Linked DNA regions of Homo sapiens: regions 1 and 3 are each reported to be linked to region 2. Evidence: microRNA targets listed by miRTarBase, many of them from high-throughput screens and not tested one by one. Region 2 holds a microRNA gene; each other region holds the end of a gene's coding sequence. Distances are from middle to middle.

Region 1 (10,477 bases), 51 Mb from region 2:
CAACCTCTGCCTCCCGGGTTCAAGCAGTTCTCTGCCTTAGCCTCCCAAGTAGCTGGGATTATAGGCAGCCGCCACCATGCCTGGCTAATTTTTGTATTTTAAGTAGAGATGGGGTTTCACCATCTTGTCCAGGCTGGTCTTGAACTCCTGACCTCATGATCCACCCTCCTCAGCCTCCCAAAGTGCTGGGATTACAGGCGTGAGCCACTGTGCCCGGCCATGAAAGATATTGTTAAAAGATCTGCTGGCCATCCCCTGTTAATGAATCTCCCTACATCCCCTCACCTCTTCAGACTATAAGAAAAACCCATAGCTTTGAGAGTCATTGGAGCTGCAGCAGCAGCAAGAAGCCTGGGCTGCTGTGAGCCAGGATGTAGATGAGGGGTGCCGCTGAGACAGGGAGGAGCAGAGCGTCCCCAGGGCCTGGGAGAGATACTGAGCCCAGAAACCAGAGGAGAGACAGGGCCAGCTGCTCTTGGTGTGTGAGGGTCCTGGCAAATATTTTTTTGTGGATGGACCCCTGTGTGTATAAACAATTTGATGAAAAAAACTTAGTACCAAATTCATGAGCCCATGTGAGGTATAATGATTGATTTGTGTAGATTTAGAATAATGACAGAGAAGAGGCACTTAGGCATTTGTTTATTGTCTAATTGGTTCACATGACGATTCTTTGTCCTATGATGTTAAGAGTCCATCAAATCAGCATGTTAGCGCAGGTCTGGTGGCCCAATCCCAGGTAGTGCCATAAAAGAAATGCCACACCAGCCAGCGGGAATGATCTCCTCATCAGGCTGCTTTCCTGGAACCAGGGACTGACTAGGAAGCCCTAAAACAGCTTCATAGGCATAAGTCCTAGAGCACCTTGGGACATCTGGTCAACCCTATGCATGCACTGGAGAACTTCCTGAAAGAAGAAAAGGGAACTGAGACCCACATGAGGCCTGGACTATGTTAGGGGTGGCCTGCATGGATGACGTTGTTGGTCATGGCTGGTCCCAGCACCAGAGGGAGACTTAGAAAGTTTTTAGCAAAGCATGTCAAAGCACAGGTTACCCCCAAAACATGGGGCTGAAGGCATGGGGACTGCTTGCCTCAGTCTAAAGACAGTGATGGAAAAGACAAACCCAGGAGATGTTTCGGAGAAAAGAAAACAACAACATCCCACACCTGGGGCCAGAAGGGGAGGGGTGCTGGCCTGGGGAGGGGCTGCCCTCCTGAGATCAGGAGCTGAGTGAATGGAGAGGGAAGAGTACCAGCTGGCATGCTGCTTGCTCTTTGCTGAGTTCCCTCTCAGTGTGGGTGAAACTGGCTCAGCCCTGCTGGCTGGCACGAGGCCATGGAAAACCCAAATAAAGCAGTTAACTCTGAAAAGGTTGCTGCTTCCTCCTATTCCTTGGGAGATGCATTCAGGGCTACACTCAGAGGCCACTTTTCGCAAGGTGAGGAGGAGCTTGTATTCAAGGAAACACTGCTTTTTCCTCCCACATTTGACACATATGTTTTCAACATCCAACATTCACAGCCAACCTCTCTACACCTGCTCTGCCTCGGAGCCCTGGCAGTCCCTGGACACGTGTTATGGAAGGAACACTGTCTCCCCCACATGCTCACATGGCCCAAATCCCCACAAGTCCCCTTTTTGCCAAGCTCCACGTCCTTTGCCTCTTCCCATCACCCAATACCCAACCTGCCATCATTGTCCTAAGCTTCCCTTCCCTGCTTCTCTCTTTGCACCTTGCCGGGTTCTCACACTCCCACCCACCTTGATAGTGAGTCCAAGCCCATCCTACCCCACCCCCAACTCCTTCTTCTTTTTCTGAGACAGGGTCTTGCTCTGTCATCCAGGCTGGAGTGCAGTGGTGTGATCACAGCTCACTGCAGCCTTAACCTCCTGGGTTCAAGGATCCTCCCACCTCAGCCTCCCGAGTAGCTGAGACTACAGGCGCTTGCTACCATGCCCAGCTAACCCCAACTCCTTCTTAATCAGATTGTCTTGCTTACTTGTTTATTGTCCCTCTCTTTTTTTTTTTTTCAGAGAAGGAGTCTCGCTCTTGTTGCCCAGGTTGGAGTGCAGTGGCACGATCTCAGCTCACTGCAAACTCTGCCTCCAGGGTTCAAGTGATTGTCCTGCCTCAGCCTCCAGAGTAGCTGGGATTACAGGTGCGCACCACCACACCCAGCTAATTTTTGTATTTTTAGTAGCGATGGGGTTTCGCCATGTTGGCCAGGTTGGTCTCAAACTCCTGACCTCGTGATCCGCCAGCCTCAGTCTCCCAAAGTGTTGGGATTACAGGCGTGAGCCACCATGCCTGGCTTGTCCCTCTCCTTCGTTAGAAGGTTCCAAGAATGCTGGCACTTTCTCTGTCTCTGTCACCTCTGACTCCTCAGAACTTAGCACAATGGATGGCACATCCTTGTCAAAACAATGACCAGATGAATGAGACATGCTTATGTTTAAGGAATTACAAGGAGCATTTTTTCTGCCTAGATTTGAAACACACACCCATTGCATTTTAAAAAATGTTTCTGTCTATTTACTCTATCAACTGTGCCATGCCTGGGGCTGTTTCTATTTGTTTTTTCTTTTTTTTTTTTTTGAGACAGAGTTTCACTCTTGTTGCCCAAGCTGGAGTGCAATGGCACAATTTCGGCTCACTGTAACCTCTGCCTCCTGGGCTCAAGCAATTCTCCTGCCTCAGCCTCTGAGTAGCTGGGATTACAGGTACGCAACACCATGCCCGGCTATTTTTTGTATTTTTAGTAGAGACGGGGTTTCCCCATGTTGAACAGGCTGTTCTTGAACTCCTGACCTCAGGTGATCCTCCTGCCTCGGCCTCCCAAAGTGCTGGGATTATAGGAGTGAGCCACCACACCCGGCCTCTATTTCTATTGATGGTTTTTTCTCCTCTCATGGCCCATATTTTCCTGCTTCTTTGCATGCCTGATTATTTTTTAATGGACACCAGACATTGTGGATTCTATATTGTTGGATGCTGGTTTCTTTTTGGTTTGTTTTTCATATTCCTTTAGATATTTTGAAGCTTTGTTTTGGGACTCATTGAAGTTACTTGGAAACTTACTGGAAACAATTTGACTCCTTTGGGGCTGGCTTTTTAAGCTTTGTTAGGTGGGACCAGAGCAATCTATCATCTAGGACTAATTTGGCCCCACTTCTGAGGCAGTACCTTATGTGTCTCTATACAATGACTGTTTTGGGAGGTTTCTCCACTCTGGCTGTTGGAAACATGAACTCTTCCCAACACAGTGTTATCTCAGGAAATTATTCCACCTGCTTCCTCCTGGTGGTTCTTTCCCCTGCCTTGGGTAATTTCTTCACATGCAGATGTTGATCGGTAGTTAGCTGAAGACTCAAGGGTAACCCTCTGAAGATCTCCAGAGCATGCTCTCTCTCTTTCTCTCTCTTTTTTCTCCTCTCTCTCTCCTTCTCTCTCTCTCATCCCTGGGACTCTGCCTTGCAAATTTAAGCCACTTTGTCCTCCCTGGATTCCCAGCTCCATTTCCTCAACTCAGGGAAACCACTGGGCTCTACCTGGTTCCCCCTTCCTGGGCTGCAGCCTGAAAACTCACTGCAGGCAGTAAGTTGGAGCAATCATAGGGCTCCCCTCACTTGTTTCCCTTCTCTTGCGGATCAATCATACCCTATATTGCTTGTTATCCAATGGCTGAAAACCATTGGTTTGTATAGAGGATTTTGTCTCATTTTTAGTCATTTAAAGCAGGAGGGTAAATCAGGTCCTTGTTGCTTCATCATGGCTGTAGGTGGTGGTCCTGCTTTTCCATATACAGGATGCTCTCAGTGCCTTTCCACAGGCTGCATGGAGAGACAATGAACTCTGCACTGAGAAATCCTAGATCCAGTCATATACTGTCTCTGGGTTCCAATTTCTGTGCCAGTCTGCTATTGCTACAATTAATGCTATATAACAAACCACTCTAAACCTCAGTGGTTTATGACAAGCAGCATATATTCTCATGCCAATAGGTCTTTGGGTGAGCCATAGTTCAGCTGATCTGGGCTGGGCTTGCCTGGGAGGCTCTGCTCCAGGCTGTAGACTGGGCTCAGGTCTGCTCTCTGGATGTTCCAGGCTGAAGGGGCAGCAGCTACCCATGGCATGTTCATCCCAAGAGAGATCACTGGAGCAAGAGGCAAGCTCAACCATGAGAGCACAATTCAAGCCTCTGCCTGGATCAGGTTTGCCAACACCACATTAGTCAAAGTGGGCCATGACAAAGCTTTGGATGTGTAATTCTATACTGGTGGTGAAGAATTAAAATGATGTATTCAGTATACCACAATTTCTCTATCTGCTTTCTAAAACTCCTTTTTAGCAAGATCTGGGCAAGCTACATTTTAACTTCCCTCCTCCAACCTCCGTCCACCCTACTTCTTGTCAAGGGATTGGTAGAGCCAGTTGAATTCTAGCAGGGACTGGGCTGGAGTCACTGGCTAGGCTGCTTTCCAGAAAATGTTTTTGAAAATCCCACATTTTGGCCTAGAGTGAACTCAGATACTTCTTGTCATCCGTGGCTCCACTGATCCCAGGTGGATTGCTGGAAAGTCTTTTCAAAACATTGCATCAATTTCTCCCATTTGCAGAGGCCAGTGAACTCTGGGAAGGTGCACTGCTGTCAAGCATGTGTCCATATCAAAGGCTGGGCTTCCATTAGGGGATGTTCGGAGCAAAAGGCCCCTTGGCCAGTTGCTGCACACACTTTGCATATGCTCTGGACACCAGTGGCCCCAGATCCCATGTTGTGTGTTTTTCTGTCTTCATTTCCTTTCCTGTCTTAGTGATTGCCCCAGGAGGCTGGTTCACACCCCGCATGGGGCCATGCCACACATCTCTGTCAGTAAGGCCTTTGGATCCAGGAGATGATGTCTCAGTGGGAGATCTAATGTTGAAAGACTCTGGCAGGGTATGTGGCTCATGCCTGCAATCCCAGCACTTTGGGAGGCCAAGGCGGGAGCATCGCTTAAGGCCAGGAATTTGAGACCATCCTGAGCCACACAGTGAGACCCTGTCTCTACAAAAAATTTAAAACGAGCTAGGTGTGGTGGTGCATGCCTGTAGTTCCAGCTACTTTGGAGGCTGAGGTGAGAGGATCGCTTGAGCCCAGGAGTTGGAGGCTGAGTATGGCTTGAGCCCAGGAGTTGGAGGCTGACTAGTGAGGTATGGTCGCACCACTGCACCCCAGCCTGGCTGACAGAGACCCCCCCCATCTCAAAAAATAAATAAAAGAAAGTAAAAATAAAAGAAAATAAAAGTTAGTAGACTCTACCCAGCTCTAGAGGGCTGAGGGCACTAAGGCATGCCAAGAATACTGCTGCTGCTACATAGGGGACTGGGGCAAATGCCATGCCATCTTCAGGGCTCTTGAGAGTGTGTGTGTGTATGTGTGTGTGTGTGTGCAGTTACATGTGTGTTCCATGGACTCTTGGGGAGGCTTCTAGAATCAGAATTTGGTCTTCCTCTGGTTCTACAGACTTTACAGAGGGCTTACTATGTTCCATTGAACTGTGAGGGCCAGGAGTGGACCAGAGATGCTGGCCCCTGTCCCGATGGGATTCAGTCAGAGCCTGGGGGAAGTCAGAGTGACACCAGCCTGAGAAACACATCTGGGTTCTGGCTCGTCTACTCATGAACTGAAGGACCGTTTACTGAACAGCGACTCTGTGCTTGGGACACAGCAATGAGCAAGACAAACAGGTCCCTGTTGCATTGGAGCTCTTAGTATTATGGGGGGTTGCAGGTATTTCAAAAATAGGCAAGTTCGGAAGGATAACATGTCAGATAGTGATGCAGAAAAAATGGTAATGGGATAGGGGATAACTAGGGGGTGACTCGAGATGGAGTGGTCAGGGGAAGCCCCCTGAAGAGGGGACATTTGTCAGTGGCATAGAACAGCAAGCTGAATCTCCCCTTCACTCTGGCCTTCTAATTATATAAAATAGGGGTGTGGATTAGAGGAGCTCGATGGGCCTGCCTAGCTTAGAAATGTAATGGTTTAATCTTCTCCTGCATGATCCTGTTACCCAGTCCTAAAAAACGAAAAAGAAAATCAAGCCAATTATACTATATTACCACTCTGCTCCCCTCCAGGGTCATCAGGTCCTGTATTTATAGGACAGAGACACCAGGAGCAGTGGACCAGCACTTTTATCCAGTTAGCTTCATTTCCAGGTGCCACTCCTGCTCACCCTCCGCTGCCCCTCCCTGGCTGCAGCTGGGTTGGAACCCCCTGGCCCAGGGGGCAGTTCTTCAAGAACCTCCTTGAGGGCTGCCCACCTTCCCTTGGATCTGTCATGGAGAGGGCCCATGGAGACAAGACCCCCAGGCAGCTATGTTTTTCCCTGTGGAAGTGGGGAGTGTCAGCCCAAATCCTCCCAAGTGGCTGGGTGAAGGTTGTGAGGCCCAAGGTACCCACACTGCCCTCTCTCAAGCTCTCAGCAGAGCCCCTGGGAGCTGCCCACTGTTCTCTGGGTGCTATGATGTCCTTAGACCCTGCAGGGCAGATGGCTCCCTGGAGACACAGCTGTTCAGGCACTGCCTCCAGGTCATCCTGGCCAAGAGGCTGATGGTGAAAGATGTGGTCTGGGAGATCAGGATTGGCCTTCAGGATGCCCTGCATTCCACTGCCTTGCCTGTGGCTGGGACATCCTGCCTGGACCTGTCATGGCCATTTCTGGGCTTCCAAACCAGAGCACGGGCCAAGGGAGAGAGCTGGCAAATCGTTAAAAATAAAAATATTCCCCCCACATTCCACTGGTGTGAGCATCCTCTGACATTATATTTTGATGGTGCTATTTCACATTCTCAAAAGCTTATAAAGATCTACACAAAACGTCACTACAACAGTGAGCTGAAGCCTTCACCCTGCCCCTAGCACTCTGGCCTTGCCTGGCCCTGCCAGCAGCTCCAGCAACCACAGGAAGGATGTTGTGGTCAGCCCCAGCCCCAGCCTCTCGGTGGCCTCCAGGTCAGCATCCTTAAAGAAACACAGTCCCCTCCATGGGAATCAAAGTCACTAGTTGCTCCCAGCAGCCCATAGTTCACTTCTGAAGCCAGAGCAAGTGAGGGGCGCTGCCTTCATCTGTGCTTCATTCTTGCTGGCATAATTCATGGATGGATATTTCCTGGAAATTCAATTGCTTCCCAAACCTGAAAGGGAGACAGGATGCTTTTGGTTAGGCTGTGCATGCAGACACTGACTTTTCCCAGGATTGAATCGGGGGGAGGGGAGGCCACCAGCCACTCCCCCTGGGTCTTGGGCACTGCATCTGTGTCTTGCCTCCCAGGAGCTGCATTTATACCCCAAGCTCTGAAGGAAGAGGCCCCCTTTGCCCTTTGCAGAAGCTCCATCTCCCTAGGCTGAGACTGACGCCTGTTTTCCTACCCCACCGTTTTCTTTCCTTTTCTTTCTTTCTTTTTTTTGATGGAGTCTCGCTCTGTCACCGAGGCTGGAGTCTTGTCTTTTCCTTCCTTCCTTTCTTCTGTCCTTCCTTCCCTTCCTTCCCTTTCTTCCCTTTCTTCCCTTTCTCTTCTTTCTTTCTTTTTCTTTCTCTTTCTTCTCTTTCATTCTTTCTCTCTTTCTCTCCCCTTCTTTCCTTCCTTTCTTCCCTCCCTCCCTCCCTTCCTTCCTTTCTTTTCCTTCCTTCCTTTTTCTTTCTTTCTTTCTTTCTCTTTCCTTTCTTTCCTTCTTTCCTTTCTTTCTTCTTTCTTCTCTTTCTTTCTTTCTTTCCTCCTTCCTTCCTTCCTTTCTCTTTCTTTTCTTTCTTTCCTTCCTTCTTTCTTTCTTTCTTTCTTTCTTTCTTTCTTTCTTTCTTTCTTTCTTTCTTTCTTTCTTTCTTTTTCTTTCTTTTCTTTCCCTCCCTCCCTCCAGCCTCCCCTCCCTTCCCCTCTTCCTTCCTTCCTTCCTTCTTTCTTTTTCTTTCTTTTCTTTCTGGACGGAGTCTTGCTCTGTTACCCAGGCTGGAGTGCAGTGGCACAATCTCGGCTCACTGCAACCTCTGCCTCCGGGGTTCAAGTGATTCTCCTGCCTCAGCCTCCCAAGTATCTGGAATTACAGGCACCCACCACCACGTCTGGCTAATTTTTGTATTTTTACTAGAGATGGGGTTTCACCATGTTGTCCAGGCTGGTCTCAAATTCCTGAGCTTAAGTGATCCTTCACCTCAGCCTCCCAAAGTGCTGGGATTACAGGTGTGAGCTACCACACCTGGACAACCCCATGGTTTTCATTGATGCTCCTACCTAATCCTCAGATTCTCTCCTTGCTTTTTCCTCCAGATATTAATTATATTCCAGGATGGCTCCTCCTGACCATGTGGCCCCTATCCTGTCATCTCCCATGGCTGGGCATGGAGAGGGTTCTCTGGATTGAGAACCAGGGCCCTTGCGTTCTAGCCAGGACAGTCCCCAACCCACGGTGTGACTTTGGGCAAGTCATGTCAGTTCTCTGGGCCTAACATTTCTCTTTGCTGGAGCAGATGAGATACCTGGAAAAAGCAAGGTGGCTTCTTGCTTCACAAAATGTGGTCCATGGACCAGCAGTGCTGGCATTTCCAGGGAGCTTGTTAAGAAAGGCAGAGTCTAAGACATGGTCCACCCTGGACTTACTGGATCAGAATCTACAGTTTGACAAAACCTGTCGATTCATTAGCACATTAAAATGTGAGAACTGGTAAGAGTGATATGCAGTTATTTTGCTTAAAGTTTGGCTAATTTAGTAAGAGCAAGAGAGAATTTCTGAGATTCTTGGATGAAGTAATAAATACAATGTTTAAAAAAATTTCAGTGGACAGAGAGCCTGAGGGGTGAGGCTGCTCAGGGAACAGGTGAGCAGGCAGCTGCAGCCCTCCAGGTTCGGCCACAGGAACCTGGTACTGGGTGACGAGTGTTAGCTTGGTTGGCTTGATATTGCTGTGGAAGAAAGGGTAATTCTTGGTGATACATTGAATGGCCAGCTAGTGCGGAGGAAGAGATTGGAAATAATTCACGGCTGTGAGCCCTTGGTCTTTCAGTTCTAATTCTGTGTGCAAGACCTCTGGCAGGCCTTGCTGTTTAATTAAACAAATATGGTCCTTATTTTTAAGACATTCTGATCTGTCTGAATTGAATTCTAGAACGGGAAGTAAGAAGACAAGTACACCGAGCCTATGATGGTCATGTGTTCCTGTCACTCTGGACTTGTGGTTCCCAGCTCTGCTACACAACGGAAATCTCTGGAGAATCTCTAGACATCCTGGTGCCCAGACCACAGCCCAGAACCATTCAGTCAGGATCACTGGGGTGGGTCCAGGTGATTCTGAGGCATGGCCATGGCTGAAACTCACTGCTTTTGTCTCTCTAGTACAAGGACTGGCAGGGCAAGAGCTGGGGGCCCGTGGGCACGTGGCTGCTGATGAGATCTGGGCTCTGATGTTTCTGCTGCACTGTTGAAATGCAGCCTGGGCCAGGATTGTGAACGCTGCCGGTGGTAGGGAGCATGGAGTCTGAGCCATCTCCCACCCAGGATGGTCTCTGAGCCCCTCACACACTTGCATGCAGTAATGACAGGGGGTGGGTGGGGTGGGGCCTGGGAAGAAATGCTACAGAATAGGGGGGAGAGCACGCTCTGCCCCAAGACATAGCTCCTTACATGCACAGACCTCAACACAAAAGGCACCATTTCAAACTCATTCACTTTATGGGCCCCAGTTAAGTGATGAAGCTCTGTCTGTATTGGGGTTTTGATTACCGTGGGCTCCCAGAAAGGAGGGCACACTACAGATGTACCATTAAGAAAAAGCAAAATCACACCTCATGGTGTTGGGCCAGCTCTCACCACAGAGGCCACTTCCCTGTTAATAATTCCTTGGTGCTTGGGAGTTGATAAGGGACTTTAATGGAGATTATCTGGGAAAGGATCAGAGCCTGGGCAAGGGTGGAATCTGTACATGACAGACAGTGAGAGGGAGGCTTGGGGAGGTGACCTGCCCAGTGTCACGCAGAGCAGAGATGGCCTTGGAATTTCCGCCTTTTCCCTCCCAGCTCGGGGCTCTTTCTCTTTCCCTGGGAGGGTTTCTGAACACAGAAGAGAGCTGGAGGGTTTCTCTGAGTGGGGCTGGAGGGCTGGGAGAGGCAGGACCTCTTCCTAACACCTCTTGGAGAAGACAGACTTGTGGTTATGGGGGTCGCACCATGGTTCCTTTCCAGATGGGAATACTTCCAAACTCAGGGATTAAGCAAGATTAAAAACAAAAAGGCCCTCTAGAAAGGGGTTAACCTCATTTCCTCAGACATAAAAACTGTCCTTGGCAGTTGGAAACAGCAGAGTTGACTCCACGGATGACTGATGCCCCTTACGGGTGTTATATACCTGTCCACGCCTGCCCCTGGCAGGGATTTAAACATTCCATGCTGTTCCATGAATCCTAAATCAAATAGATTCATCCTGGCCCTTGGTGAAGCCT
Region 2 (10,477 bases):
CACAGAACTACCATATCTCCTTCATGCAGATATCCCAATTGTTAATATTTTAACACATTTGTTCTCTCTTTCTCTCTCCGTATGCCTGCAGAAATATCTAATATAAACACCCATTACCATTATTCTCTTTCTGAATAATTTGAAAGTAAGTTGTCAACAATGATGCTCCATCAGCTGCTAAATGCATCAGTGCACATTTTCAAAAGGAATAATGGTACATAACCACAATACAACATCCAAATCAGAAAGTAAGCATCAGTATAACAATACCACTCAATCCAGAGACCCTATTCAAATTTCACCAACTGTACCAACAATATCTTTTTTCCTTTCTAGGGCAAAGTTTGAGTCAGGATCATGGGGTACAGTTAGTTGTGCTAGCTCTTTAGTCTCCTTCAGTATGGAAAGCTCCCCCTGACATATCCTCAGCCCAGGGAAGCATTAGGGGAAGGGGCAGGAAGGGATAAAGGAAGCACAACTGCACCTTTTTTGACTGTTACTGGATTCAAAGTGTTTTACTAAATTTACTGAGCTGTTCACTTAAGGTTTTTGCAATCTGTGTTGATAAGTTATGTCTCCATTTTTAAAAACAGAAATAGTCAAGTGAAAATAAAGGTTTATACTTAGTTGATACCTAAGAAAGCATCCCATGTGCATGAAGATCACTCACCTCACAAGGATTTTGCATATATTGTTCTTTCTACCTCTTTTCTTCCCCCCAGCAAACTCCTACTCATTCTGCTCTCAGCTAAGTGGAGCTTTCTTCACCACTACCCAGGTCAGATCCTCTTTATAGGTACCTTGGACCTAAATCCTTTGCAGCAATTATTATAATTATATCCACCCCCTCTTTTTTAAAATTTACTTTTTAAATTATGGTGAAATCCACATAATATAAAATGTATCATCTTAATCATTTTTAAATGTACAGTTCAGGAGAGTTGAGTACATTCATATTGTGCAACCAATCTCCAGAATGCCTTTCATCTTGCAAAACATGAAACAACTCCCCAACCCCTGAAAACCACTTTTTAACTTTTTATATCTATGAATTTGACTACTCTAGGTATCAGTTTCTCCACATCATCACCAATACTTTTTATTTTATTTTTTTTCACGTTAGTTTTTTTTTAATAGTTGGCATCCTTATGGGTGTAAGGTGGTATCTCATTGTGGTTTTGATTTGCATTTCCCTAATGATTAGTGATATTGAGAATTTTGTGTGTGTGCTTGCTGGCCAGTTGTATATCTTCTTTGGAGAAATGTCCATTACATTCCTTTTCCTGTCTATCTATCTATCTATCTATCTATCTATCTATCTATCTATCTATCTATGAATGACAAGGTCTCACTCTGTTGCCCAGGCTGGAATGCAGTGGCACAATTATGGCTTACCACAGCCTCAAACTCTTGGCCTCGAGTGATTCTTCTGCCTCTTTCTCGCAAGTAGCTCGAACTACAGGTACACATCATACCTGTAGTTTTTAAACTGCTAATTTTTAAATCTTTTTGTAGAGACAGGGTCTTACTTGTTGCCAAGGCTGGTCTTGAATTCCTGGCTTCAAGCGATTCTCCCTCCTTGGCCTCTCAGTACTGGGATTACAGGCATGAGCCACTGTGTTCAGCTTGCCCATTTATTGATTGGGTTGTTGTGTTGTTACTGTTGAGTTGTAGGAGTTTTTCATATGTTCTGGATATGAACTCCTTATCAGATAGATAATTTGCAAATATTTTCTGTCATTTTTTAGATTTCCATTTCACTCTATTGATTGTGTCCTTTGATGGACAGTTTTAAATTTTGATGTAGTCTAATTTGATTATTTTTACTTTCGTTGCCTGTGTTTTCGGTGTCGTATCCAATAAATCATTGCCAAATTCAATGTCAAGGAGTTTTTTCCCTGTATTTTCTTCTAAGAGTTTGATAGTTTTAGCTCTTATGTTTAGGTCTTTGATCCATTTTCGAGTTAATTTTTGTATATGGTATTACGTAAAGGTCTGTCTTCATTCATTTGTATGTGGATATCTGATTTTTCCAGCATGGTTGAAAAGACTCTCCTTTCCCCATTAATGATCTTGACAACCTTATCAAAAATCATTTGACCATATATATGAGAGGTTTTTTTCTAGACTCTCTTGTATATATGTCTGTCTTTCTGCCAGTACAATGCTGTTTTGATTAACATAGTTTTGTAATAAGTTTTGAAATCAGTAAGTGTAAGACCTTCAAATTTGTCCCTTTTCAAGACTGAATTGGCTATTCAAGGTCCCTTGAGATTTCATATGAATTAGGATGGATTTTTCTATTTCTGCAAAAAACACCATTGGGATTTCCATAGGAAATGCATTAAGTCTGTAGATAATCTTGGATAGTATTGCTATTTTAACAATATTAAGTCTGAATTCATGAACATGAGATATCTTTCCATTTATTTTGTGTTTAATTTCTTTTAGTAATACTTTATAATTTTTAAGTATGCAAGTCTTTTGCTTCCTTGGTTAAGTTTATTCCCAAATATTTTATTCTTCTATTGCTATTATAAATGGAATTGTTTTCTTAAATTTCCTTTTTGAATTGTTCATTTATTCCTCTTTTTTCAAGTGGAGTCACCTGCTCATTTTTTATCTTTTTCTCTGGGCCATAAGCTTCAGGACAGTAGAAACGGCGTCTGGTTTTGCTCAGAGCTAGACCCCAAGTTCTTTGTATAGCACTTGTCAATGAGTATGTGCTCAATAAACACTTGTTAAAATTGTCTAATAGTGTTAGATTAGCTTAGTAGACCCACTGTCTATTCTTATATGTGAACAAATGGTATACTGATGCTGAACCACTTACCTTGACTATCTTTTCAGCCCTCCTCCTCCCTCTTAAAAAGTGATACCTCAAGGCGGGGAACATCACACACCCGGGCCTGCCGAGGGGTGGGGGCCAAAGGGAGGGAGAGCATTAGGACAGATACCTAATGCATCCCAGGGCTTAAAACCTAGATGACGGGTTGATAGGTGCAGCAAACCACCATGGCACATGTGTACCTGTGTAACAAACCTACGCATTCTGCACATGTATCCCAGAACTTAAAGTAAAATAAAAATTTTAAAAAGACACCTAATATTTATTGAGCATGTAGATGTACAAAGTGTCTATGCATGTGTTAATTTGTTTTTCACAATAACCCAGTGAGGCAGACATAGAGTTGAGAGTTTGAGTTCTGGAGTCAGACTGTCTGAGTTTGAGTTATTTAATCTCTCTGTGCCTCAGAGTCCTATAATAAGGGATTTCTAAAATGCATACCTTTTTGGCTTGTCTTGAAGTTTAATTAAGATATTGTATGTCAGATCCTTAGGACATAGTAAGTGCTTAGTGAATACTGATAATTATTATCTCAACTTTTCAAATGTGGAATCAAGGTTTAAAAAGGATAAGCTGCCTTCAATCACACTCAGGCAGTCTAGAACTTGTAAGTACTTAAGCCCTGCATTGAAGTGTACACCATTCGCTTCTATATCTGAGACCAGGTGAGGAAACTCACAAGGCCCTCAGAAATAAAATGTCTGGAGAGTCTGCAAGAAATGGAACCCCCAGGATGGCAGAACAGAGTGTGCAGGGTTGTCCTGATTTTGCCAGCCCCTTTCATTCTTCAGAAACTCCTTGAAACTCCTATCAGGGAAGTCAGGGGGTTCTGAGAGGCAATCTGACTCTACAAACTAGACGTTTTTGCTCAGTAGATCAAATTCTGTCTGTAGATCTGCCAGACAGCCAGCATGGCTCAGGTCTAGGGGAGGATGGTGAAGGAGGGTTGGCTTCTAGCATTATTCTGGGCCAGAAGAGGAGCCTGGGGTCTGACTCACTCTCCATCTTCTCATGGACTTCACTATCAGCACAGGCACACCCACCTTCATCTTGGTCCTATTCTCAGTACTAGGACTTTGTAGAAATGGAAGGGGTCCTGCTTTTGAGAAAAGTCCAGGACCTTGTCCCAGAGTCCCAAGTCTAGGGGAAAGCATGACCATTCCAGTAGTCACATTAGCTGCAGGTTCATGTAACATCAATGGCTAACATGTGTTGAACACTCATTATTCTTAGTGCTTTACTTGCAGTATCTTATTTTATCTCTGGATGACCAACTCATTCCAGTTTGCCTAGAACTTTCCCAGCTTTAGCACTGAAAGTCCCACATCTCAAGAAGCCCCTTAGTCTGGGGCAATTCAGGAGGTTTGGTCACCCCAAGCACCCTGGGAAGTAGGAAGCTTGGCAGAGAGGAGTGAAATGATTTTCTAATGACATACCCCTATCAAGTACCAGAGGCAGGATTTGAACTCACGAATTCTGGCTCCAGGGCCTCTTCTCATGACCAACATGCAAGGCTGCCCAAGCCAGTATAAGCTGCCTCTGCCAGCAAATGTTTGGGTTTGGTCCAGATACCAAGTAGATGGCAAATAGCACTGGTGGCTATGGGGAAAATAGTAAATTGTACAGTATGAAAGTTCCCAAAATTAAAAATGGAGACTTGTACTTTGTTGCTGACAAAATGCCAAAGATTGCTTTCTAGACTTGACTGGCTGTCAGATTTGGTGTCTCGTTTGATTCTAATATTGGTGGTGCCTTTAATTTTGGTAAGCATGAGATTGGGAAATATGGACCAGATTGGCATGGTGGATAGGTAGCTTCAAGGCGGAGTGGTGCAAGGTGGGATTCTGGCTCTCCTTGAAGGGCTTTCATATCCTGCACTTACTCTATCATCTCTATGGAACCACTTAGCGGCCACCATATCTAGTCTTGGTTTGCTTCTTTTCTTCTACTTCCTGTGCAGTTCCTCTCTGCTGCATTTATGTATCCTTTTCTACTCCTCTCTCCCACTCCCAGAAGCACTAACTTGGTAATGCTACTTCTACTCCACAGTCAGACCAGAGGTGAGCAGCCTGGCACATGCCAGCTCGAGAAGATTGTAAACCTGTCAGCTACCAGGACAGGCTCAGGGAAGGAAATGGGAGAAGCACAGAGCAGGAGGACAAGCGTGCTAGTCACACAGGCAAACACTAGCAACTTGGCGATTTGCTGGAGGTCAAAGAAATGATGGGGTTATTTGTACTTGGATATTTTAATTTTCTTATTTAATTAGATTGTTCTTCTGTTGCAAGAAGTAGAGACCTTTCCAAGGCACTATGAGAAAGAGGTCAGGGGAGTAATGGTAAGGAAACACATGGATTCAATCTGAAACTAGAATTTTAAAGCTGTCAGGTTCGTCTCTCAAGGGCTATGGGGTTCTGTTTTTCTCTGAGTATCTCTGCTCCATTCCTTGAACTTCTGACCAGCTTTCTCTGTTTACTTGGGAAGTCATGATGTGAATCTCAGCCCCATCCACTGAGCATCTGGGTAAGTCTCCTGGAGTAATTTGTCCATGCATCCATTGGATTACTAGTCTCCACTTGCCAAGTGGCAGAACGTCAGCTCTGCCTGGACTCAGTGGGGGATTGGGGAGATGGCTCTGTTAGCTTCTGTGGCTCTGCCATGGCTGTTCTGGCTGCCACTCCAGCCCTCGTTCATGTTGCTTGATAGCACGGCCCATGCTGCTCCACAGAGGTGCTGGCCAACCCTGACCTCTAATACACCCCAGGACCTCTGTTCGCTCACTTGCGGGCATCTCCCTCCTAAGGAAATGGCTGCTTCTGCTAGCCTCCTCTGGTCTAGGTGATGTGGGGGACGATGATTCCCATGGGAAGCATGGGAAGCACAATAGAGGCACACTCTATTGTGTCTATCCAAACCTTACTAATTTGGAGTTTTGTGGGGTGGTGTGCTGTGTGTATGTGTGTGTGAGTTCTTTTGGTTGGATGACACCACTCCTCCCTGGGAGTGGAGATTGTGAAGGAAAGTCTGGATTTCAGATGGCGCTTCAGACTGTATTCAAAGCCACTCTTCTCATCCCACACCCAAGCCCTTCTTCTAGTCCACCCTACTGGATTTCTTCATTGTTTTGGGGGTTTTCCTTCCAGGGGTTAGTTGCTCCCTGCAATTTAGCCCGTGTCACTTTCCTTCTCTCCTTCTCTGGCCTGTCAAACAGACATGCTGGTGTGTGCAAACCCAGGAAAACTGAGGAATGTGGCTGGATTCTTATTGCATGGCCCTTGCATGTTCTGTGAATGTACAGAGGATCTCTAGGGCTTCTTCCACCTCACAGACAAGCCAATTCGAGCATTGGCTTGGGGTCCAGCCAAGATATCCCTTTATGTTCATAATTTCTGTTTTCTAAAACTTTTAAAAACAAATGTGTCCCTTTTTAAAGATATGACTCTTCATGACCATTCTATATCTGTCCTTTTAGCTTCAACTCCTATTTTCTTATTTATTAGATCTTAGTTCAAATGCATGTGAGGAAAAATCTGATTGGCTCCACTTATGATTTAACACAGGCCGGGCATGGATTGGCTGCCTTGGCCCAACCCTGGTCCAATCAATTTACCAGCTTGAGGTGGGTGGCGAGAGGGGAGGGGTGTCCCAAGGAACAAATCATGGTCACCCAGGCCTTCACGTTCAGCATCTGCTGTGCATAGGATACTCTTTCTTTAGAGTCACTATTGATGGGTAAACACAATGACTGATACCTCAAATACATTCATACTTCAAGAATGAACTGTTTTCTGAAATATCAACATGGGGGCCTTCCCCCCATTAAAATTTCCAACCGTAGTGTGCTTTCTTATTTCATTTTAGGTATGAAAAATGATATAGAGTAGGAGTGTTTGGGAGTCTTCTATGTTTTTGTTGCTTAGATGATTCCCATGTAGATTTCTACACTATTCGATTTCACACAGATATGGAGTGATTCACAGCTTAGAAGAATATTGCTGTGTCCTTTTCTGCTGCCTTTCATAATAAGACTTCAATTGCTTTTAAAACACTAACTAAATCTCATTAACATTATCTCCCACATGTTAATAGGAAAAACAGGTCTGTAGAACAGTGACATTTCATGATTAAAAATACATTTATTTAATGGTTGAGTTGCCTCGATTTGAATATTGCCCACTGCTTCCATAATAACAGCAGAAGTTTTTCACAGATGCTTTTTAATGGGTAACCCCTGCTATATCTCCACTAGCAGTATAAAACCTTGAGTAATGTGCATTGATTTGATATGTGCTAATTGCTTATCAGAAATTACTCAGTTGTAGCCTATCACTGCTGAAATTACTTCCAAGGAGAAAACTGGGCACTTTTGAAAGGTGCATTAATGCCACTAGGTCACTAGTGTCACATTTAGTATTCTAAAACAGTAACTGTAATGGCCTGACAGAGCCCAGTGCTCATCCAAAGACATTCGATGTTCACTCAAAGAAGAAGGCACAAAGAGAATCTGGCCCCAAATGTGGAATCGAATGCAAATAAAAATTGCTTCAATCTATTATTTTATAAGTTTATTAAAAATCAGGAACAGCAAATAAAAATTGCTTCAATCTATTATAAGTTTATTAAAAATCAGGAACCTTAGTAAGGTTTGGATAGATGCAATAAAGTATGTCCACAGCTGAAAGGACATACTTTATTGCATGTATCCAAACCTTACTAATTCAGAGTTTTGTGCTGCGTGTATGTGTGTGTAGTAGGAGTATGTGTGTGTGTGTTTCAATGCTCCTGCTTCTGATCTCCAATAAATAAGGTTATGTTTTGTATCCAACTCTGTGGTATACTGGTGCCATATTTTGTCTTGAACAATTCTCAAAATGTTTAGATAATTAGTTCTGTTTAGGATTGAAGTAATCCACTGGGAACCCAGGGTGGGCGCAGTTTGGTGATTGAGGGGGCAGAGGTAGTGGAGTAGTCATGCATGCTTCTCAAAGCCCTAGTGTGGTAGGGATGCATGGAATGGCCAGAGAGAAACCAGGACTGCTGCCTACATGGATGCCTGCCTGTGAGGTGGGAGGTAAGGAAACCTCAGTGGCCCCTACCCTGGCTTGAGTGGAGGCCCAGGGCTGGGGTGGATAGCAGTGGACAAGGAGCACCACAAAGGCAAGGAGCAGGTTTAGGGGAAATGAAACATTGACTCCTTGTGATGAGGACAGTGGGCTGGAATGTTTCACATTTCCCTCCAAGCCACCATTCTTATAGTCACTATTTGCCTAGTGTGACTGCCAAATCTGGGGTCCCTGACACTCTCTCAGCTTCATTTTCCTCTTTGCTGGTCTCATACTCAAGCTGGTACTCGCCATGTGAAGGGCAAGGTGGTCACCAGCAGCTCCAGGCTCCTTACTGCAGGTCCTTATGCTCCACATCTCTGGGGAGGGGCAACAACACTTCCTCTCCCAGGGTCCATATGCACACCTCTGGCGGGCCTTTGTGTGGCCCTGCTGGGTCACATGCTTATGCCATGGAACTGCCATTAAGGAAAGAGAGACAGAAACTATGACTGGCACATTTCCATCTTAAGGGACAGAGGGGTGTTGGGCAGACAAAAGCAGCCAATTTCCACTAGACTTTCCTTCAGACACCTATTATAAACTGGGATGCGTCTGATTCTAAGATGAACAGTATTTTTGTGAAAAGCCTTCTTAAAGAGGAGCAGCTCTTCATTTCCTTGGATAATCCAGGCACAGCCCCATATTCAATGTGCTCATGTCCAACCCAAGCGGATGCTACCCATCCCCTTCTGCATATTCTTTCCCACAATGTCATGCCACTTCTGTGGACAGTGCTCCTAAAATGAGCTGGTGTCTATGTGGCAGAGGATTTTGAGTACCAGACATGGATCTTTGCTCTCAATTTCTTCATCAATTAGGAAGCATTCATAGTTTTTGAGCACGGGGGTGATGAAGAAGGGGATATTGCATTTGATGTGCAGCAGGCAGTTGGAAATATGGGTCTGAAACTCAGAAGGGAGGTTCGAGCTGGAGAATAGCTGTGAATAGAGTGACAGCTGGAGTAACAGAAATAATGATATTATATCCAAAAGACTATAGAGAAATAAGGGAAGAGTGAAGGGCACACAGTCACTCATTCTAGAAACCTAGGAGTCATCATTGGCTCCCTCCTCCCCTCACTGCCGCATATTCCATCTTTCAGCCATACCTGATAATTCTACCCTCAAATTCCATTTATAGAACCTGTCCACTGCTATCCATCTCCATCCAGGTTGTAGACTTTCCTGTCCTTACTACTGCAAGTGCACTGGCTCCTAAACAGTCTCTGCTTCCACTCTTTCCTATGTCCAACCCATACTCACCTAGCAGTAAAAAGATTTTTCTAACATGTGAATGGTGTCATGTCACCCCTCTGTTCAGAGCCCCTACAGGGTCTCACACTGAGGTTATGATAAAGGACAGCCATCATATCCTGGTCTATGAGGCTTTGTGTAACCTGGCCCTTACCTCTACCTCCAACCTTCAGTCACTCTCCATTCATCACATCTAAATCACATGCAACGATTTGTTTCTCAAACACATCAAGCACTCTACCAGTTCTGCTTTAAACTTCCTCATCAGCCCTAAGTCCGCCTATTCTTCTTACCTTCCATCTCCCCAGCGCTGGTTTCTACTGCCCATTCCCTTAATCCTCTCAGTAACACACAGTGTTTTTAATGCCTGAGGAATCATCCTGCAAGCACAGACCCTTCTTTGGCCACCTTACCTTCCCAACCCAGCACTGCGGCAAGGAGCTGAGCAGAGCAAGGTGGTTCCTGAGAAACCTTCCAAGAGGAGAGGGAAGCCCATGGCCATGAGGACCACAAAAATCACCATTCTTTCCCTTTTAAAATGTGTTCTAGTTTTAAAAAATATAATACTAAAATTGGGTTTATTTTTAAAAATAAGGTATAAAGAAGATTCTTCACTTGACAAAAGGATTCATCTTGAGGTTTCTTAAAATATTGATTTTTTCTAATATATTCAAAGCTTGTAATTTTATTTTCCACAATTCAATTCACACAAGTTTTCACAGGTACATTAACTGCAGAAAATAAAGCATGCTTGTATTATTCCTGTGTCATAGATGGTAAAATTGAGGCTCAAAAACTTGCTGAGAATGACAAGGACTATCAATAACAGAGTCAAGGTTCAAAACTAGAAAACTGTTGGCAATGAATCTTTGCTCAACTCAAGGATTAATTCTATTTTCCCAATAATTTTCTCTTTAAAATATAGTGTAAACCCCAGCTATTCTTTTCCAATACCTGAAATGGACTTGAGTATAAACATGTTAATGATTTTTTGTATAACACCACGTAGGGGATTCCCAGATACTGGTTATGTCATTCCTTAGAGTCCTCCTCAGCTAACTGTAATGGTTGTGCTGGGCTGCCTGCACCAAGGCTATTTTTGATAATACATTTGTGTTTTATCCAATGAGCAACCAGGCAGAGAGGCAACACTGGGACAGTTAACTTACATTTTAGCATAGTTGTGAAAAGTGAATAACAAGTTCTTTTTTTAAATAAAAAAGGAAATGAAATTAAAAACAAGACTTCAATTTAATCTAAGAGACTGGAAA
Region 3 (10,477 bases), not on the chromosome of region 2:
AATCTTTCAGTATGGGCTTATGATAGTTATCACAGCCCTAAATAGCTTATTTTAGATCAAATGCTTATGTGCTAGCAAGATACAGTCAAGACGCATGTCGAGATCATAGTTACCTTGTGTGTTTTCTGTTTTAAATATTAAAATGGGATGTTTAGACTCTTAGATGCAGATAAAAGATGTTCTCAGTGATAAAATCAATAGAGGCTAATATGTCCCCTGGAAAAATAGTAGCACAAATTAGGCAGTCCAATATATTCTGAGGAATGCACATCAGGCAGCATGTAAAGGACTTCTAAGATGTAGATAGGAAAGAATGAAGATGAGGAAAGAAGAGAAAATCTGATCTAGAAAACAGAGTATGAGTCCCCCTTCCCGCCCCCTCTTGAAGATTATAATAAGCCTTATGCTAAGTAGGAAAATGAATTCATCCAATAACATTTGCATTCCTTTCAGTACTTCCAGCGAGCTGTTAAAGATGAATTGTGTCGTCAGAATAACTTATATGTTCAGCCGTATGCCTGTTATGAACTTGGCTGTCTTCTATTAGACAAACCAGAGGTAAGATCTTATATATATAATATAATATATATTTTTAATGTTGTTCAACAAAAATGTGGAAGTGGGCAAGCACAAAGCACCCTTCATTTAAAACAAACTGAACACAGTGTTCTTCATTTTGTTTTCCTTGGTTTTACTTAGAATGAATCCAAGAAGTTAGTAATACTACCTTATTATCTTTAAGGAGGTAATTTCTTCCCTAGCATTCAAATTACAGTCATACATCTCTTAATGACATGCTGAGAAATGCGTTGTTAGGCAATTCCTTCCTTGTGCAAACATCATAGAGTACTTACACAGACCTAGGTGGTATCACCTACTACACAACCAGGCTGTATCTATAGCCTATTGCTTCTGTGCTATAATTGTGTACAGCATGTTACTGTATTGAATACTGTAGGCAACCGTAACACAATGGTAAGTATTTGTGTATCTAAATATAGAAAAAGTATAGTAAAAATACAGTTTTTAAAAGTTAAAATATGGCCAGGCTCAGTGGCTCATGCCTGTAATCCCAGCAGTTTGGGAGGCTGAGGTGGGAGTATCACTTGAGCCCAGAAGTTCAAAACCAACCTGGGCAACAAAGTGAAACCTCATCTCTGCAAAAAAAAAAAAAAAAAAAAAAAAAAAAAAAAAAAAATCAAAAAACATAGTCAGGCGTGGCAGCATGTGCCTGTAGTCCCAGTTAACCTGGGGGGCTGAGGTGAGAGGATCTCTGGAGCTTGAGGTTGCAGTGAGCCATGATTGTGCCACTGCACTCCAGCCTGAGCAACAGAGCAAGACCCTGTCTCAAAAAAAAAAAAAAAAAGTTTATAGCTATGTATAACTTACTGATTCAGATAAAACCTTTTGATAATCATTAATTTTAAGGTTGTTTAGTAAGATTTTAACCTAAGATATTATATCTTAGAGGTTGCCTTTTATAGACTATGAAAAATTATTTATCAAGTGATTATATATCAAGTAATGTCCTCATGTAAATGAGTAAACATCTTTATATTAAAAAATATTGGGGCTGGGCGCAGTGGCTCATACCTGTAATCCCAGCACTTTGGGAGGCCAAGGTGGGTGGATCGCTTGAGGTTTGAGACCAACCTGGCCAACAGAGCTAAATCCCGTCTCTACTAAAAATACAAAAATTAGCTGGGCATAGTGGCAGGTGCCTGTAATCCCAGCTACTCAGGAGGCTAAGGCAGGAGAATTGCTTGAACACGGGAGGCAGAGGTTGCAGTGAGCCAAGATCATGCCACTGCACACCACACTCCAGCCTGGACAACAGAGTGAAACTCCATCTCAAAAAAAAAAAAAAAAGAAGAATATTGGAGTCATTATACTTGAATGAACAGTTGACTCATTGCTATGTCTACAGTGAATTGTTTTAATTAACATAGCCTCCTATTATACCATTTTCTGCCTGCGTATATATAAACACAGATTTTATGGGATAATGTGTTTTTCTTATAGACTGTAGGAAGAGGCAGAGCTCTACTTCTTCAAGCAAAGGTAAATATCCTGAATCTACCTTTCTCCAGTGGCCCTTCTTATCCCATACACTGTATACCTGAGTCTGAATTCAAGAAAGTTTGTGCAATGATGTTCTGGTTGGTAATATTTCTGGAAAGGAAAAATGACAACCAATTGAATCAGTGAGCTCTTGAGTTTTAAGGGACATTACAAGATCATAAGGAACTTCGATGAAATTGTTCATCCTGCTTTAGAAACACTCTTAGTCTTTGGGTGGGAAGATAACTTTTGATTTTATAACTATGTCCCTGAATTAAGAATTTCTAATAGCAACTTATATTGAGCACAACATAAGACTACTTTTTCAAGAATAACTCGAGGAAAATTGTCCAAAGAGAACCTTATTGACATTCAGTTGACGTTTTTAAAAATGAATACAAAGTTTGAGGTTTGAGTAATATGAAAATCAAGTGGATGGGAAACCTTTACTGGGAGTGTAGAGATTTTACTTTGGGAAATGCAAAATTGAGTGTGCTTTATACCACAGTACCCTGTGCAAGCTTAGCTAACAGAGTGCATAAATATCTTTCTTTGATCTTACAGGAGGATTTCTCTGGCTACGACTTTGAAAACAGATTGCATGTCCGCATCCATGCTGCTCTGGCCTCTCTGAGGGAATTGGTTCCTCAGTGACAGACCCGGAACACCCGCTCCGTCCCTCCCCACCCAGGGTCCGCACTTTAAAATAAAAGCAGAGGACAAAGCTCTTGTGAAGATGGGCTTTTCTTCTGAAAACCACCTGTGCCAGGGACACATTTTCCCAGTTAAGCTGACATATTAAAGATCTCCTCTTTTAAACATGTAGCTGAAAAGTAATAATGATGTTGAGGAGGATGATGATGGTAATAATAACTAACCACCTGGGGAGAGGGTTAAGTGACCTTGCTCAAACGTTTTAGTTTTGTGATTTATTATTTTTAAAATAAAATCAAACGGAACATCCAACCCAAGATCCTGTAGGAACACCTACCTTAAGCACATATCTGAATGGGTAACATGATGAGGTACCTGTAAAATTATTAACAATATCATGACATAGCATTTATATTTGTGTTTTGAAAAAATAAAAGTGCTTTCTAGTGTTTTACTTTATCCTCAAAATACTCCAGTGAATAACATAGCACAGATATTCTTAACCCCACTTTGCAGACAGTGAAACTCAGGCACAAAAAGGCAAATTGACTTATCCCAATTAATTATTCCTGTTATCAGCAGAGCAATGAATAGAAAGCAGATCTCCTGACCACCAACTGACTTTTATTGTAAAAATAATTCATGTTAATAGGCCAGAATTCCATGTTTTACTTATTAAAAGAACAAAATCTTCAGCTGAAGTTATGTCACCAGAAATAGTCATCTCCAGATTGTCTACAGAATGTTTCAAAGCGATGGACACTCTTTTTCCTTTGAAAGCCAACCAAGTAAGAGCAAATATTAATAGAAGATAATTTTACAACTAAAAGTGTGACTCTTTTGCTAATCTATTAGCCTAGTCTATAGATTAGACAAACAGTATCTACATTTTAGGAGTTTACCTTTCTTTGTGAAAATTGTCAAATTACCAACTTTTGGAAATCTTTTGACACATTACTTGAAAAGGTTATTCGTGAATGAACATAGATTTTGGCCTCAAAATATTTGCTGGTGGAACATTTGCTGGGCTACACAGTGCCAGGATTTAATCATTTTCCCCTTAGCTCAGGTTATTTAGATATTATACAAGGAATTCAAAGTTATTTTTTTATTCTTCATTGCTAATTTTTGTCATTTAATTTACCTCCATGCCCGGTACTGCAAACCTGTGGTTTTGAAGAATCTAAATACCTCAGTCACTTTTAAGAATCTCTGCCATAATTTGGCTCAATGTTTAAGGTTAGATTTTTAAAGAAATTTTTATTGAGCTAAAGGATATCATTTTAGGGTATCGTTTATTTACAAATTCTTTTGGCTGAAACATGATCTCATATTAATATTTTAATATTTCTTTTCAAAATAAAACAGAAAAGCAAGTAGAATGTTGGCAAATTTTATCTGATTTGACCTTGTTTTGAGGGAATAGTCATAATTTCTTTGAAAGAAGTTATTTCTCACTGATTTTGGCTAAACAGTATTCATATTTCTTCATCTCTGTTACTGACCACTTTTCAGTAGACTGTTTCCAAAATGTGTATTCACATTGACTTTCTCCCTGATGTGAATTCCGTGTGGGTTTTAGATAATAGTAAGAGAGAAGAGATTGCTCTCCTATATTCAGTGAATGAGAAGGGAACTTTTTTCTGAAGAGCAAAATTGGTGCCCAAAAATATTGGACATCTGTTTTTTGTTTTTTTTTTTTTTTTTTTTTTTTTTTGAGACGGAGTCTCGCTCTGTCACCCAGGCTGGAGTGCAGTGGCGTGATCTTGGCTCACTGCAACCTCTGCCTCCTGGGTTCACACCATTCTCCTGCCTCAGCCTCCCAAGTAGCTGGGACTACAGGCACCCGCAACCACACCCGGCTAATTTTTTTTGTATTTTTAGTAGAGATGGGGTTTCACCATGTTAGCCAGGATTGTCTCCATCTCCTGACCTCGTGATCCACCCGCCTTGGCCTCCCAAAGAGCTGGGATTACTGGTGTGAGCCACCGTGCCCGGCCTGGACATCTGGTTTTAACTAGATGGAAGGGAAGAACATTATGAATCTTTAAAATACGGCTGTTGCCATTTTTCTCTCTTCTTAACATGCAGCATAGGTGACAAGCTTTTCTGTCATCATCATGGAGCATTCTGAATCATGACATTTTTGTTTGAGAGTTCATTCTTGAATTTTCAGTTCAAAATATTGTTTGAACTATTATTCCACATTCAAAGATTATATAAGGTCCTGTGCTTTTGAATCTTTTTCAAAACATTTATTTCTGCCTGCTTAAAAAAAATACTTTTATTTCCCCACAGAGAGTTCAGGACTTCAGATTAGTTTGTGTTCAGCTCACTTAACTGGATAGACAATTTTGCGTTTTGCAACACCATCCTGTAGGTTTTCTTTACTAGTCAAAGTGTAGGTCTTTTTAAAATTTTTAATCTTTATTTTTATTTTTATTTTGAAACAGAGTCTCACTCTGTTGCCCAGGCTGGAGTGCAGTGGTGTGATCTGTGCTCACTGCAACCTCTGTCACCCGGGTTTAAGCGATTCTTCTGCCTGAGCCTCCCAAGTAGCTGGGATTACAAGTTCCTGCCACCGTGCCTGGCTAATTTTTGCAGTTTTAGTAGAGGCAGGGTTCCACCACCTTGGCCAGGCTGGTCTTGAACTCCTGACCTCATGATCCACCCACCTTGTCCTCTCAAAATGCTTACAGGCATGAACCACTGTGACCGGCCAGGTCTTTTTTTTTTTAAAGAGTCTATCCTAGGCTTGGTACAGATGGCGCCTGTGGTAAATCTGTGTTAACATGGTGGTAGACCATGGAGAATGGGTAGATGGAGCTTCTAGACTCCAAAACAACAAAACCACAGTGTGAGTACACTGTCCCATTAGGTTGACTGAAGTCTGAGTACATTTTCTGGCCTGCGTGCCGTGACTTATCCAACCTGTGAACTGATTGTGATCTGCTTGGTAACTTGGTTTGGTGTAAACTGCTCTTAACCCTTTGCTGATGAAGAAAATAATCATATAAGTGGAACTATTTGCATCTATGTGTGCTTCTTTTTTTATGTTGTCATCACTCATTCCTTCCCCTGTCCTATTTTGGAGGCTCTCAATGGATCTTCTAACTTATAAATGTCAAATATATTTTTGTATTAGATTGTGCCTATGATGAGAGAAATCTTTAATGTATATTTTATGTATGCTGAACACATTTTTATAATTTGACACACTTGGAGGCATGGTCTAGTAATAATAATGTAATATGTACCTTGCTGGTTAATATAACTAAGATTTTGCCTTTATTGGGTTAGGTATCTTTTTTTTATTTTAGCACCTGATAGCTGTCTTCTACTGAGTAAAGAATTATAACTTTTAGATGTCACAGAAAATTAGAGTATTTATTGTCACATATTGTGTAAGTCAATTATTTACTGAATTTGCACTTTTCTGTCTCTGCCAACTAAAGTTAAAGGACAAGTCATATCTGATTTTTAAAATGAGCACATGCACAGGCATGCACACACACACACACACACACGCAGACACACACCTTTGCTGTGTAAACTTTTCCAGTGGATTTCTTCCTTAAGCAAATCATGGTGGCAAGTATTCAAATACGGTTTTCACTATGAAGATACACATTCACAAAATCATGATGTACTGTTTTGGTTTCTGCAGATGGTATATTTTGTAGAAAGAAAATTGTTAAATCGAGATCATCCAAGAAGATACATAGTCGAGGCAGATACTTTAGAAGCTAGAAGAGGAAATGCAGAAAGAGAGAAGGATAAGGGGAGCAAGAGAAAGTTGGTCCATAACAGATAATGCTCCTTTTTCAGTAAAGTATGCAGAAATCACCAAGAGCACAATTTAACTGGCTTTCTTGTGAAAGCTAGCAAGGGGGCTGATCTCTGTCACCTAGTTGACTTGGGTATGAAATAGAAGCAACACACTTGAAACCCAGGTGACCTCTATGTAATGCCTAATTCCTCCTCCCAGAGGCCAGTGGTTGTCAATTTCCGTGTTTTACATAGAGATTCTGGTTTGGTAGGTTCTAGGTAGGGCTTGGGAAGGCATTTTTAACAAGCTCCTGGGATGATTTCTTATGCAGGTGATGTGGATTAGAGAAACATTGCCCTATTCATCTTTTGTTAAGGATTTGGTAAATCTGGGAGAAGAGTCAAACACAAGCAGAATTATATAGAATTATATAGCAAGGATAAGTCATAGAGCATACATCATGGGGCCACTGAGAAAATGCTTCTAACCCACTGGCTTCCTAAAGTAGGAGATTTCTGAGATGAGTTCTAAAGGAGAAGCAGGATGCAGTCAGGTGAAAACACTTGCTGGAGCAGCATCCAAGGCCTTGGACCTAATGAGCAAAAGCACAGAGGTGATAAGCGACATGTGTGTTCAAGACTCTGGAGGGTCAAGTGGGAATCACATGGTGAGACATGAAATACGAGAGGTATGCAGAGGCCACACCCACAACCATGGACTTCCATAGGGTAAGGATTTGGGGTGTGGGAGAGGGGCAGTGGAAGGTACATTTGCGTTTTAAATCATTGGTGACCAAAAAATAACATACTGGTGATTGAAAGGGAGATGAACACAAGCCAAGATTGTGAAACCACATCAAATCATTAAGAGTTCAAGAAATCAAAGCAGCGATGGGCAGTGGTTTGAAAATTCTTGGTTAGATGTTTACATTGTAACAATTTGCATTTCAGAATGACTCAGCCAAACAGTCACTGAAGAAATGGAGAGTAAAATCTTGTTTTTTGAGTTACAGGTATTTCTGCATAATACCTTACACCTAATAGATGTTTGAGATGACCCACCAAGGTTACGTTAAAAAAACCATAAATGTCTCCAATTCCAAAAGACACCATAGATGAGGTACTTAGGATTTTCAGTAGCTCAGTTCATTATGTCTCTGACACCTAAATGTGTTATAAACCAAGCTATCAGAAATCATGACAGCCTCATCTCACTTTTATTTACATTACCAAAGTGGTGCTGGAGGCAAGTGATGAAGGATGAAAAATATCTGCAGACCCACCAACATACTCAGTCTAAAAGCATTTCTCCCTTTTTTTTGTTTTGTTTTGTGAGACGGAGTCTCGCTAATTCTCCCTTTTTAAGTATGTAAACTTCCCGAGAAGAGGGAGCTTTCCTGGCACTCAGTAAAATAATTATTAAGTGGATTAATGAATGGCACCAGATAATGCTGACTGAGGCCTTAACATTGCTTTTATTGCAAAGTGCTCTGGAAGCCCTAATTTTTTCTGAATTAAAAAATAGGGTTTTGTTTTATTTTGGTTTGGTTTTTGTTTTGTTTTGTTTTGTTTTTGGTCAGATATCTGCCCTGGCGATGCTCTTTGGTTTAAAGTAGTTGCTTTTTAAACATTTGAAGATGGATCAAAATTAAGGCTGCTTGTACTCTGATAATCATGATTATGGTGTTATTTAGAGCCCAGCCCAAATACCTGAGCCTAAATGAGTGAAAGAGCAGAGAGTGGGCGTTTTTTTGTTTTTTTTGTTTTGTTTTTTGTTTTTTTGAGACGGAGTCTCGCTCAGTAGCCCAGGCTGGAGTGCAGTGGTGTGATCTGGGCTCACTGCAACCTCCGCCTCCCAGGTTCAAGCAATTCTCTGCCTCAACCTCCAGAGTAGCTGGGATTACAGGCACCCACCACCACGACCGGCTAATATTTTGTATTTTTAGTAGAGACAGGGTTTCACCATCTTGGCCAGGCTGGTCTTGAACTCCTGACCTCGTGATCCACCCGCCTCGGCCTCCGAAAGTGCTGGGATTACAGGCGTGAGCCACCGTGCCCGGCAGAGTGGGCGTTTTTAAATGAAGCAGTATTCCTTTAGTTTGGTAAAATTGAGCTGAAGTTACACACAGTAACACCTTGACTTGTTGCTGACGGTGTGCTTTGTGGGGATAGTTGGTGTCTGATCTCAACTGTGGAGAAACAGGAAGTTTCTGGATTCATGCTGAACTCCCATTCCACAGGCGAGTTTCACAAAAGAAAAAGTGCTCTGTTGCATACAATTATTCACTGTGTGTCTACAACGTGGCAGAAATTATTATTCCTAAAGGTGACCGAAGAGAGCTATAGTTTATGGGGCCAGGAGCAATGTGTGGAATGGCGAGGCAGTGACAAGACAGCACTGCCATAAATCTCTTACTTTCTTTCCAAACGAGCTCTAATTTTAAGCTCAACGACCAAAGACGGAGAGGCAGTCGCTTTGAGCTACTCCTGGCTATTTGTTGGGAAATCACCTAAATCCGTTCAGATTTAGCCAGAAAAGGGGAAATAAGTCTCCCTCGCCGGCCAAATCATGGCCTTTGTCGCTTTCGGCTCCCCATTGGCTGCGGCCGCTGTGGCCCCGCCTCCTTGAGTGGTGCGGAGCTTTGTGATGCGGAGCTTCGTGATGCACGCCCCGATGCCTGCGGGGCTATAAAAACGCTCGCAAGCGCCAAGTCTCCTCAGGAGCCGCCGGCAAGGGGGCAACGAGGAAGCTCTTAAGAGCGCGGCCGGAAAGCAGGTGGGGAGAATCTGGAGAAAAGGCGCACCCTGCGGCCTCGGAGACCATTATGTCTCAGGGAGTCTCTCGCAGTGGGAGAGGTCGTCGGGGCAGGCGGAGGGTCCTCAGAGTCGGGGGTGGGGGGCCTGTGGGGCGGCCCCGGCCCACACCGGGGAGTGCGGCGACCAGACGGCCAGCTGCCGAATCTGAGGCCTCGGTGGGTCCGTCGCCCGCCTCTCTTGGACAAGTCCAGGCGATGTGAGCACGCCCAGCCTCCTACATTTCACTCCCGTCTCTCCCAAACAGACCTAGCGCAAAACGAGCACTGACACAGCGGGGGCCCACATCCCGGAGGTTCTTTAGGGAGAGGTCGGGGAGTGCGGTTACCTATGGCTCCGAAGTCCCCGCTGGCATCCTGAAAGGCATCGTATTTCTCGCTTAAGGCGTTACCCTTGTGGTAGTGGGCGCATGGACGTTTACAGTTGGGCGGGGCAGGATTTAAATTCCGCCAGTGGTGGACCAGTATTGGTGATAGGAGAGATCTGGGAAGAATTATTAAGCTGTCGCTTTTAAATAACCCTAATAGTGTTTGTGACAATTTTACCCGTTGACTTTTCTCAGCTTGCTTAGGACAGTTCTTTGTGGGGAACTGAACTGTAGGACGTTTAGCGTCCCTGGCCCCACACGTTCCCAAAGTCGGGGTGAGAACTAGTGGGACGGGGGATCATGGAGTGCATGGCCGCTGTCCCCACCTTTGGTAGCACCAACTGCTAACTGCCTCCTGAAAGGTTGTTGGCGCCATCATGGTTTCTGGGAGCCACTTTCTTTTTTATTCTTTTTTTTTTTTTTTGAGACGGACTCTAGCTGTGTCACCCAGGCTGGAGTGCAGTGGCGCGATCTCGGCTGTCAGCTCCGCCTCCCGGATTCACGCCATTCTCCTGCCTCAGCCTCCCGAGTAGCTGGGACTACAGGCACCCGCCACCACGCCCGGCTGATTTTTTGTTTTAGTAGAGACGGGGTTTCACCGTGTTAGCCAGGATGGTCTCCATCTCCTGACCTCGCCTCGTGATCCGCCCGACTCGGCCTCCCAAAGTGCTGGGATTACAGGCGTGAGCCACCGCGCCCGGCCTCTGGGAGCCACTTTCAAAACGGTCTATCTACTCACTTTGGGTACTTAAAGAAAATTAGACATATGATATATATGAGTATGTATCAAATATATATATGTATCAAATAGTA

What was found. Region 2 holds the annotated microRNA hsa-miR-4464 (AAGGUUUGGAUAGAUGCAAUA, at 7,489-7,509, shown strand). A microRNA usually pairs through its seed, bases 2 to 8, with sites in the 3' UTR of a target mRNA and lowers its output. Matches are read on the target gene's strand: a 7mer-m8 pairs with bases 2 to 8, a 7mer-A1 pairs with bases 2 to 7 and ends in A, and an 8mer does both.
Region 1: the mRNA of KIF6 is a reported target of hsa-miR-4464. Seed matches in the 3' UTR shown: 7mer-m8 at 4,215-4,221.
Region 3: miRTarBase lists TTC39C as a target of hsa-miR-4464. Seed matches in the 3' UTR shown: 7mer-m8 at 3,877-3,883.

The regions. Positions count from the first base shown.
Region 1 is chr6:39,329,365-39,339,841 of GRCh38, forward strand. KIF6 (kinesin family member 6) reads right to left here. Exons shown (of 23, transcript NM_145027.6): 23 at 626-7,184. The coding sequence ends at 7,168. LOC105375047 (a long non-coding RNA gene) reads left to right here. Exons shown (of 3, transcript XR_926774.3): 2 at 9,149-9,314. Among named protein-coding and RNA genes, the nearest start is that of KCNK16, 12 kb to the left of the region's middle. RefSeq lists enhancers at 799-878, 6,799-6,878, 10,155-10,477.
Region 2 is chr6:90,305,265-90,315,741 of GRCh38, forward strand. It overlaps MIR4464 (microRNA 4464), which reads left to right and starts at 7,478; the gene lies at 7,478-7,569. The region is part of intron 1 of LOC105377891 (a long non-coding RNA gene); the gene reads left to right.
Region 3 is chr18:24,129,860-24,140,336 of GRCh38, forward strand. It overlaps TTC39C (tetratricopeptide repeat domain 39C), which reads left to right. Exons shown (of 14, transcript NM_001135993.2): 12 at 454-558; 13 at 2,023-2,061; 14 at 2,626-5,741. The coding sequence ends at 2,715. It overlaps CABYR (calcium binding tyrosine phosphorylation regulated), which reads left to right and starts at 9,203. Exons shown (of 6, transcript NM_153769.3): 1 at 9,203-9,259. RefSeq lists an enhancer at 8,788-8,847.